3 linked regions of the Homo sapiens genome follow. The protein of the gene in region 2 purifies or fractionates together with the protein of the main gene of each other region. This does not show direct contact. Each region holds a gene or a part of one and is shown on either strand. Other genes may lie near its edges.

What was found.
Region 1: the proteins of PCNX3 (region 2) and SLC18A1 purify together in Homo sapiens (co-immunoprecipitation; one large-scale study listed by IntAct). This does not show direct contact.
Region 3: the proteins of PCNX3 (region 2) and SYT11 purify together in Homo sapiens (co-immunoprecipitation; one large-scale study listed by IntAct). This does not show direct contact.

The regions. Positions count from the first base shown.
Region 1 is NC_000008.11:20,145,054-20,148,701, forward strand, and holds part of SLC18A1 (chromaffin granule amine transporter), read right to left. Parts: intron 3,018-3,648; coding exon 2,954-3,017; intron 2,670-2,953; coding exon 2,550-2,669; intron 2,339-2,549; coding exon 2,205-2,338; intron 824-2,204; coding exon 710-823; 3' UTR 1-709.
Region 2 is NC_000011.10:65,625,676-65,629,323, reverse strand, and holds part of PCNX3 (pecanex-like protein 3), read right to left. Parts: coding exon 3,580-3,648; intron 3,421-3,579; coding exon 3,270-3,420; intron 2,650-3,269; coding exon of another isoform or gene 2,624-2,649; exon of another isoform or gene 2,427-2,623; intron 2,421-2,426; coding exon 2,276-2,420; intron 1,920-2,275; coding exon 1,742-1,919; intron 730-1,741; coding exon 621-729; intron 506-620; coding exon 376-505; intron 1-375.
Region 3 is NC_000001.11:155,876,567-155,880,214, forward strand, and holds part of SYT11 (synaptotagmin-11), read left to right. Parts: intron 1-3,648. UniProt on the Homo sapiens protein: Synaptotagmin family member involved in vesicular and membrane trafficking which does not bind Ca(2+). Inhibits clathrin-mediated and bulk endocytosis, functions to ensure precision in vesicle retrieval.

The sequences.
Region 1 (3,648 bases), on a different chromosome or scaffold from region 2:
GGAACACACAGGGGAGGTCAGGAGAATGTCAATAACTCCAGCAGAAGAGAAATGGGCTCCTGTTTCTGAAAGATAATGAAAATAGAAGACACTTTTCACTGAGGGTAAAGCCCTTTTAGCAGCTCTAGATTTAGCCACAGAAAAATCACTCACTTTATTAAAAAAAAAAATAAATGAAAAAAAACAAAACAAAACTCTTCAAGCTGGCATTTGGCAGCAAGACAATGCTGAGAACATTTTCTCAACTCGGCTGGGAAAACCCGGGAAAGAACACGTTGAGGAAAAGAGGGTAACACTCTTCCGATCTGTTGGGACTATGCCAGAGAAAATCAGGCAACAGATTAAAGAGGCTTGTCAGTCACCCCACTGGTTTCAGGGGCACATTACTCACTACCACCTCTATGCAATGAGTCACCCCTTGCAGAACCCGTCACAGCTCAAGTTTAATCAACCTCACAGCAGCGGGAAGGTGCATCACTCTGTCTTCCCATAAAAGATGGGCCACTGCGGCACCAAGGCATAGAGGAAGAGCTACAAGTTACACAGGTGAGAAGAGTATCAGGGACAGTGTCCATGGGAGGGGAGGAAAGAAGATTCCCAGGCAGAGGTATGTGAAGCCCACTGAGCCGTGGGCTCAGCCATGGTGATCTGGTCCCAGGGAAAGAGGTGGTCACTGAGGCATCATGAATTCAAGGAGCACCTTCTGCTGCTACTCCTCATGGTCAGGCTCCTCATCACTGTCCTCCCCCAGAGGAAATTCCTTCGTGGGCTTCTGGGTTGCATACATCCGGGTCTCCATGGGGCAGTCCTGACTCAGAATAGCCTGCAGAGAGAGGCAAGAAGAGAAGCCACTGCACATTATTATCATTTTTTTTTTTTTGAGACGGAGTCTCGCTCTGTTGCCCAGGCTGGAGTGCAGTGGCGCAATCTCGGCTCACTGCAAGCTCCGCCTCCCGGGTTCATGCCGTTCTCCTGCCTCAGCCTCCAGAGTAGCTGGAACTACAGGCGCCCATCACCACGCCAGGCTAATTTTTTGTATTTTTAGCAGAGACGGGGTTTCACCATGTTAGCCAGAATGGTCTCGATCTCCTGACCTCGTGATGCGCCCGCCTCAGCCTCCTAAAGTGCTGGGATTACAGGCGTGAGCCACCGCGCCCGGCCAACCACCGCACATCTTTTTTTTACCAATCTCCTCATTCCGTCCTCCCACTAGTTCTTCCAAGGCTGGCATTGCTAAGTACTCAAGAAACATGCATAGGACCCTCTGCATGTACATGCACCAGCCTCCCGGGGTACCTAGTATATCAACCCTTGTCAGGACAAGTATCTCATTTGCTTTTAACTGAATTTAACAGTGGTAGTGAAAGTTACAGCAGGAAGCCAAATGGAATCACCACCACTCCCTATCACACCTTCATGTCTTCTTTTGTTCCCTTGAGCAGCCTCTGTCGGTATCCCAAACCCATCAGGCCCTCAGGATGTTTGTGCTGCAGTAAGAGGAAAGTGCTTTATTAAAGAAAATCCTATGGTATGGATCTCTTCCCTGGGGTTTTTGTACTTTTAAAAACGTGACCTGCTGACCAACATGGATAAACCCCATCTCTACTAAAAATACAAAAAATTAGCCAGACATGGTGGTACATGCCTGTAATCCCAGCTACTTGGGATGCCAAGGCAGGAGAATCTCTTGAACCCGGGAGGCAGAGGTTGTGGTGAGCCGAGATCACACTATTACACTCCACCCTGGGCAACAAGAGTGAAACTCCATCAAAAAAAAAAAAAAAAAGTGACCTGGTAAGGATAATGTTGCACTAGAGTGAATGAGTGGATGAACGGATGTGCCAATGGAATTCTGCCCACTTATGAGGGAGTTAACTTGGTAACTCACATCTTGCTAGTAACTAGCAAGCTAAGAACAGTAACTACAGGATGTCTTTGATGGTCCTCTGCCCCCATTTCCCTTCTCTACTGAAGACCCTTCCTGATAGCCCCAGAAAGAGGGAAGTGGTTACTTAGAGAAGGGAAATTAAGGAAGTGCACAAAAGAAATATGAAGATGAAAGGGGATTGGGAAACATGGCAAAGCAGAGAGAGTATCAACAGAGCAATAGAGGGAGGAAATAACAGCCCAGGATGAAAGGGAATGAGAGAGATGATGGAAAGAAACAGAAGTGAATTTCTCTTTTAACAGTCGGTGCTCCTTACAAGCTTCTCTTCCTTTGCCGGGGGGCTCCGCAGGTAGTAGCAGAGTGGAGCATAGACGATGTTGATGACCCCAGTGATGACCATGAGCCAGGGAAAACCGATGGCCTTTACAATGGCACCACCGGTGGATGGACCTGGGAGGGATACATCAAAGTCATAAGTGTCTATGGAGCCTCCATATGGAGCATCCTCCACGTAGGACACTATGCTAGGGGCAGTGGGTGACCCAGAGGATGTCTCAGCGTCAAAGATCTCCAGAACCCTAGGAGGATAGCTTCCTGGCTGCACTTCCAGCTGGTAAAGAGTAGACAGGGGAAAGTGGGGCACCAGGTCCTGCCAACATACCTATAGCAAAGCCCATGCAAAAAGCCACATCAGCGATGGCGTAGACACTCCCATACACCGAGGTGTGGCGTAGATCCACCAGGTGCCCCATGATGGGCATCATAGAAGAATCCACCATGCCTGTGGCCAGAGCAAACAGGACACAGTCAGCCCCACCCACAGTTAGTACCACCCCGCCTCTCCTCCTCCATTTAGTCCATTTGCTTTGTCTGCTGTCTTCTGCCTCGGACTAACACCTGTTCCAGGTGGGAATTACGAGCTCATCTCTCCACAACCCTGCCAGCTGCCCTCCTGATCCTTCTGCCTCTGCACCTACCTCCTCTGATGAGAAAAGGGGGAGGAAAGGCATCAGACCCAAAGCCAACATGCAGGGGCTTATTGTTTTCTTTGAGGGCACTTCTTACCTATGGCAAGGCCAAGCCCTGCATTGGGGCCAATGAGACCAAAAATATTGTGAGCCAGAGGAACCTGCATGGGGAAGGAGGAAGAGTCATCAGGACTCCAGATGGGTCAGGTGGGAGCAAGGTTCAAAGAGTTTTCACATGAAATGCATTTATTCAGAGTGCACTATTGGCCACATACATCATCCTCCTGCACTCTCAGACTTTCTCATGGAAAAGAATCTATACCTCCATTTTAAGGATATGAAAACTTGACCAGCGCTGTTGTGTTTATTTATTGCTCTATCCAGAGTTACAGATCTAATGAGTGGCAAGATCAAGTTTGGACCTCAGACTTGGCTCCATTATGCTCTAACGAGGGTCTTCCTCTGTTCCATGGATACTTTCTCCCCTTCCTCTACCCCTCTTCACCTAAACATACACTCCTGGTCTCATTCTTCATGGAATAAAGTTGCCTCTGTTTTCCATTATGGACATCACTGAAAGGTTTCATTTAGACTTCTAACTTGGTAGCTGTTGGAAAAAGAAGATAGAGAAGAGGCCCCAACAACCAGTTAGCTGTAAGCTAGAGGGGGCAGGTGGTGTGGCTTGGGTCCCCTGTCAGGAAGCTTGTGAGACTCATTCCCATTGCCCTCCCAATCCCCCAACAAAAACCCCTTCTTCCCTCTTTTTCAGGTTCCTTACCTCCCTCTCTGGGT
Region 2 (3,648 bases):
AAGAAGGTGAAGAGAGGGTGCACCCTGCTCATGCTCTCCCTGTGCCACAAGGTCAACGCCATCCAGGACAGCCCCGTTATGCAGGCAGATGAGGAGACTGAGGCTCAGGTACATGAAGGGACTCACACAGGACACACAGCCAAGAAGCTGGGAGGCTAAGCTCATCCCCAGACCCCACTATCCCCAAGCTGTGAGCCTGAAGCCTTGGCCTGGTGCAGGCTCTCCCTGCATTGGATCTGCCGCCTCATGTGTCCCCACTGTGACCAAGCCCTCCCATACCTGCTGTGGGCCCCTCTGTGGGTGGCCTCCAGCCTGGGCTCCAAACCTCTCCCTTCCTGCCCTGCTGGGCATGCTCCCGCCTCCTGTGAGACTCACTTGTAGTCGCGCTCCCAGAACTTGAGGGGCCGAGCGTAGGACATGATGAAGACGGCACTGCCTAGCAGTGGGTTGAGAGGCGTGGAGAAGAGCCCCGAGAGCAGGGCCTGGACGAACAGCATGGCCGAGTCTGAGCCACAGTCAAGGAGGCGGCGGGCAACAGGACCTCCCAGCCCCCCACCACCCCCCACTGCCCCAGGCCACAGCCCTCCCTGCACACCCCCACCCAAACACAGGCTGGATACGTGGCACGGCAAACGGCTGGGCAAAAGCGTGGAAAGCCGAGCCCCAGGTGATCTGCCAGGGCGCGATGTAGGTCAGCACGAAACGCAGCTTGTACAGCAAGTCCCACAGCTGGCAGGGCCAACAGGGAGAAGAAAAAAGACATGCAGGGTCACTCATGGAAGCCCCCGGATGCCAGGCCCCATTCAGAGGCTTGGGTCATCGCACTGGCTTGGCCCACGGGGGCCAAACTCAAGGTCACTGCCAGCCCTTGTGCTCTGGACATGGCTCAAGGCGCCTGATGCCATTAGCAACCCCTGCCTGAGCTCAAAGGGGGCGGTGGCCATTTAGTTCACACAAGTACCCTGTGAGCTTCTTATTCCTATTGCTGGCCCCTTTTCACAGATGGGAAAGTTGAGGTTCAGTGAAGACAGAGAAGATAAATGACTTCCTCAGGTCACGCCACTAGGTCACTGGTGAGGCTGAAGCTAGACTATAGTACTGAAAATTGAGAACAGCCACAGGCCCTGCCCTCAGAGGGTACGCAGTGTGGATGACCGCCATCCTGGGCCAGGCCAGAAAACAAGAACAGAATGCCCACGTGAGGAAGAAAAAGGCTCAGGCCTGCCTGGGGTTCCAGGTACCACTGCTGGCCTCCAGTAGAGTGTAGGAGCATGGTTCCTTAGTTCAAAGAGCCCCCCAAGCCGTGGCAATGCCACAGCCGGCAGAGCACCTATACACACCCAGGCACTAGGGGCTTCTGAAACTCAGCTCGGACTGCTCTGGATCCAGGGTGGCAAAAGAGCGTGGAACTCAGAGGTCTGCGTCCAGAGGATAAGGCCAGGTCCTGATTACCCTAACCATTTCTGAGGAGGTGGTCGTGGGGTCAGACAGGCCTGGGTTCAAATCCTGGCTGACCACCAATTCTCTGGAAGCCTGAGGCAAGTCCCTCAACCTCCTTCAGCCTGCTTCCTCTCTGTAGAGGGTGGAAGTAACCCCTTCCTTGAGAGGCTGCTGCAAAGGCCCACGGGGCTGATACAGAGCGGTGGCCACAGGCCCTCAGGAAATTCTCTTCCCACCCAGGCAGAAGTTGGCTCTGCTCCCATTGGACAGCCTGGGGTCTGGGCCACAGCCACCAACTCACCTTGCTGCAAAGCAGGGACATGAGGAAGTAGTCAAGCAGAAAGCCCTGGGAGAGGCGCGGGTAGTCAAAGTGGAAGAGCAGGACGGTGAAGGCCAACGTCAGGTACTGCTGTGGGGGGCAGCAGAAGGCTGAGCGCAGCAGCTTCAGCCCAGCCACGGTCATCAGCAGCGCCCGGCAGCTGTGGGCAAGGGGCAGGCATCGGGTGCTTGGTAGGGGACCGGGGCAGTGGGTATAGGTGTCCCATCCCTCGCCTACTCTGGCCGGAGAGCAACCCCTGGCCTCTGCTCTGCTGGGCTGGTCCCTGCTCTTTTGGGCCCGTGACTCTTAGTCTCTGCTCTTCCAAAGGGAGTGGTGGGAACACATTTGCCTTTGAAGAAGCAACCACTTCCTGGGATGGCGTGTCAGGAGCTGGGGTCCTGCTTTAGCTTGCTAAACAACCTTAGACATGATTCATTCCCTCTCTAGGCCTCAGTTTCCCCACGGATCAAAAGGGAAAGCGGATGATGGGATCGTTGAGGGTGGGGTGGTCCTCACTAGAAGCAGTACTTGTCCGGGTGGCTGACGACTGTGTGGGCGTCCACCGTGAGGGCGTTGAGCACCACGGCGGGGTAGATGAGGTACTTCTCTACGCACTGCAGGCCAGCATACAGCTTCTCAAACCACATCACCTGGGCGGCACCTGTGTGGAGAGGCCAGGACTCTGCACCTGGCTTCCACATGCCTGCCTTCCCTGAGGAAGTCCTTCCCTAGGAGGGCAGGCTGTGCGGTCCTGACTCCTCGGAGACCCTGGGGGGAGGGGCTGATCTGTGGCAGCTCAAATGGGAGCAGCGAGCCCCAGCAGGGCAAGGGCTCCACATGGCACTTAGCACATCGAGGCTTGCTTTATGGCAGGTGCTCTGCTCTGCTGTCTGTTAAAACAAGGCCAATGATGAAATCGCAAACACCTACGTACAGCAGGCTGGCTAGGGCCTGAGTGCACAGTGAGCCCGTGAGCTGGGCCCTTCTAAAGGGCAGACCCCTCGGTTCAGGCTGGTTGTAGCCACAGAGGGATGCTAGTCTGGGAAGCAAAATCTTCTGTCGTTTAAGAAAAACTCAAGAAACATGGATCTTCATATCTCAAATCGAGATGCTAAAATAGAGGCTCCAGGATTTTTTAAAAACCATTATGCAGCCCAGTGAAGATGTGCTCCAGGCAGCTCTGGTCCACTGGTGATCAGTGTTTAATTCTGGACAAGAGATCCCTTCAGGGCCCTGGGGTTCTAATTCTTCCGTCTTCTCACAGACAGGAAGGAGGGCAGGACCAGGGCAACACAGGCAAGGGAAGGGCACAGCAGGGCACGAGGAGAAGAGTCGGTGGAGAGCGCAGCCGGGCAACACGGACACAGAGGGCAGGGAGGGAGCAGAAAGGGTAGTGTGGGCAGCGAGTGCCCCCTGCTGGCACTCCTGAGCCGAGAGGACCACAGCTCCCACCAGCCAGGCTGCAGCCCGAGCCACTGCCCAGGCCTGGCCATCAGGGGTGGGCACTCACCGCGCACTTCATACTGGCTGTACTCCAGCGGCTTCAGCACGGGCTGTGACAGGCAGAACCAGGGCAGCTGTTTGCGGAGTTGTGGCAGCAGGTAATGTGTGAAGAAGCCCACGGCCCCAGCCAGTGCGTACAACACGAAACCCAGCACCGACTGCAGGAGGGAGAGGCCAGAGACTCAGCTGATGGGAGCAGGCCAAGGGACCACAGAGGGCCACCTGGCACAGGCCGGGGAGGGGCTGCCCACGGCACTCAGATTGAGCAGGCTCCCGCCAAGACAGCGAGAGGCAGCAGCGGCCCATGCCACACAAACCTTCAGGGCAATAAAGACGGTGCTGGCGCTGATGGCGAAGGTGAGCACGGCGATCACCACACACATCAC
Region 3 (3,648 bases), on a different chromosome or scaffold from region 2:
TCTTTATCCCAGCCTCATCCCCACTTTCTAAAGCTAAAAACACAAGAAATAGTCCACCCTTTCCTCCCTCTTCCCTACGCTTCACAGCCAATTAACTGCCCAAGCCTAAAAACCCCTGACAATTCTTCCTGAGACATATTTTACCTCCATGTCCATCTCCTCTGCCACAGCCCTAGTTCCAGTCCCAATCATTTCTTCTGTAGCACGTTGCTACAGAACAACGAAGTCTGCTTTTTTGAGATGGAGTCTCACTCTGTCGCCCAGGCTGGAGTGCAGTGGCGTGATCAAGGTTCACCTCAACCTCCACCTCCTTGGTTCAAGCGATTCTCCTGCCTCAGCCTCCTGAGTAGCTGGGGTTACAGGCGCCCGCCACCACACCCGGCTAATTTTTCTATTTCTTTTTTTTTTTTTTTTTCCTGAGACGGAGTCTTGCTCTGTTGCCCAAGCTGGAGTGCAGTGACTACAATCTCGGCTCACTGCAAGCTCTGCCTCCCGGGTTCACGCCATTCTCCTGCCTCAGCCTCCTAAGTAGCTGGGACTACAGGCACCCGCCACCATGCTTGGCTAATTTTTTTGTATTTTTAGTAGAGACAGGGTTTCACCTTGTTAGCCAGGATGGTCTCAATCTCCTGACCTCGTGATCCGCCCACCTCAGCCTCCCAAATTGCTGGGATTACAGGTGTGAGCCACTGCGCCCGGCCTAATTTTTCTATTTCTAGTAGAGATGAGGTTTCACCATGTTGGCCAGGCTGGTCTCGAACTCCTGACCTCAGGTGATCCACCTGCCTTGACCTCTCAAAGTGCTGGGAATAGAGTCGTGAGCCACTGCGCCCAGCCACAGCAGCTTCTTTTTGACAGGGTCTCACTCTGTCACCAAGGCTGAAGTGCAGTGGCTCAAACACAGCTCACTGCAGCTTCGATCTCCGGGGCTCAATCAGTCCTCCCAAGTAGCTGGCTCTATAGGCACACGCCACTGCGCCCAGCTAATTTTTTTTTTTTTTTTTTGAGACAGAGTCTCGCTCTGTTGCCCAGGCCGGAGTGCAGTGGCGCAATCTCGGCTCACTGCAAGCTCCGCCTCCCGGGTTCACGCCATTCTCCTGCCGCAGCCTCCCCAGTTGCTGGGACTACAGGCGCCAGTCACCACGCCCGGCTAATTTTTTTGTATTTTTTTAGTAGATACCAGGTTTCACCGTGTTAGCCAGGATGGTCTCGATCTCCTGAACTCGTGATCCGCCTGCCTCGGCCTCCCAAAGTGCTAGGATTACAGGCATGAGCCACTGCTCCCGGCTATAGCGGCCTCTTAACTGAGCTTTCTGATGTTGGTCTTCCTCGACTTTAGCTCATTTTCCACCTTTCTCTGAAATAATAATAATTTTAATAAAATGATGACAACTGGCCAGGCATGGTGGCTTACACCTGCAATCCCAGCAGTTTGGGAGGCCAAGGTGGGCGGATTGCTTGACCCCAGGAATTTGAGATCAGCCTGGGCAACATAGTGAGACCCTGTCTTTACAAAAAATACAAAATGTAGCCTGGCATGTTGGTGCACACCTGTAGTCCCAGCTACCTGGGATGCTGAGGTGGGAGGATCTCCTGAGCCCAGGAGGTGGAGGTTGCAGAAAGCCGAGATCTCACCACTGTCCTTCAGCCTGGGCAACAGAGTGAGACCCTGACTCAAAAAAATGACAGCTTTGCCACTCCTATACTCACCAACCTCCTCTTGTATGGGTGCTGCTGACTCTGCTCTTTGGTAGTGTCCCAACAGCCCTTTACTCTAGCCTTGCCCACCTTTCCAGGTTCCTGACCTACCCCTCCTATCAGCCACCCCCACTTCAGGCATATTCACCTCTCAACCATTCTCTGAACACAGCTTACCTTTTCAGGCCCAACTCCTTTGTACCAGCCATTTCTGTCAATCTGCCTGATATGATCATCCCTCTGCCCATTGCTTCATGGTTTTGTACCCCCATCAACTCAGTCCAGGCATCAGCTGGTAAAGCCTTCCCTGAATCTCCATGGCCGGGCGCGGTGGCTCACGCCTGTAATCCCAGCACTTTGGGAGGCCGAGACGGGCGGATCATGAGGTCAGGAGATCAAGACCATCCTGGCTAACATGGTGAAGCCCCGTCTCTACTAAAAATACAAAAAAAATTAGCCGGGCGTGGTGGCGGGCGCCTGTAGTCCCAGCTACTCAGGAGGATGAGGCAGGAGAATGGCATGAACCTGGGAGGCGGAGGTTGCAGTGAGCCGAGGTCTCGCCACTACACTCCAGCCTGGGTGACAGAGCGAGAGACTCTGTCTCAAAAAATAAAATTAAAAAATAAATAAATAAATTAATTAATTAATTAATTAAAAAAGCCTCCCCTGAATCTCCCAGCTCTAGGTGCCCAGAGCACTTAGACAGGCTTCTCATTTCTCTGACAAGTCCCGCACAGGTTTATTTACTTCTCTGACTCTTCTACTAAGTGGTAAGCTCCTTGGGAGCAACAACTGAGTCCCATCAGCTCTGGATCCTCAAAACCTGGCATGCAGTGCCTATGAAAATGTTCTTTAAAATGTTCTTGGAGGGGCCAGGCACGGTGGCTCACGCTTGTAATCCCAGCACTTTGGGAGGCCGAGGTAGACAGATCACTTGAGGTCAGGAGTTCGAGACCAGCCTGGCCAACATGGTGAAATCCTGTCTTTACTAAGAATACAAAAATTAGCCGGGCATGGTGGCGGGCACCTGTAATCCCAGCTACTCTGGAGGCTGAGACAGGAGAATCACTTGAACCTGGGAGGCAGAGGTTGCAGTGAGCCGAGATCACGCCACTGCACTCCAGCCTGGGCGACAAGAGCGAGCCTCTGTCTCAAAAAAAAAGTTATTGGAGGACTAGAGGTTTTTTCAAGCTCAAAATGGAGCCTAGCATCACATTTAAAGATGGAGAAACAAAGATCAGGGTGCTGGGGAGGAAGCTGACTTGGCTGGAGAAGATACACTGGAGTGCACATTGGGGTGGGCAGAGCAGGTGTGGATATTCACCCTGTGAAATGCAGGGACAGGTTCAGGGACTTGCCCAAGGACATGTGGTGAGTAAGTGGCAAGGTTAAGATTCAAACCCAGTTCTCCTACCTCCCACTGTACAGTCTTCAGAACTTTTTAAAGGATAAGAACCAAATGAGAGGATGCACTTCTATAGTGCGCACTATGTGCTGGGCACCATTGCAGTTTACAAATTTTAACTTATTTAATCCTTCTGATAATGCTATGTGGTAGGTACAACCTTTCACCCACATTTTATAGGTGAGGAAACTGAAGTACAGAGATGTTGAGTAACTTGTCCAAGGTCACAGATAAGAAATAGCAACTGGGCATGGTGGCTTATGCCTGTAATCCCAGCATTTTGGGAGGCTGAGGCGGGAGGATCACTTGAGACCAGGAATTCAAGACCAGCCTGGGCTACACAGTGAGACTCTGTGTATAGAAAAAAGAAAAATTAGCCAGATGTGGTGGCACACACCTGTAGTCCTAGCTACTCAGGAGGCTGAGGTGGGAGGATTGCTAGAGTCCAGGAGATGGAGGCTGCAGTGAGCCAAGATCACGTCACTGAATTCCAATCTGGGCAACAGAGTGAGAACCTGTCTCAAAAAAAAAGAGAAATAGTCAGG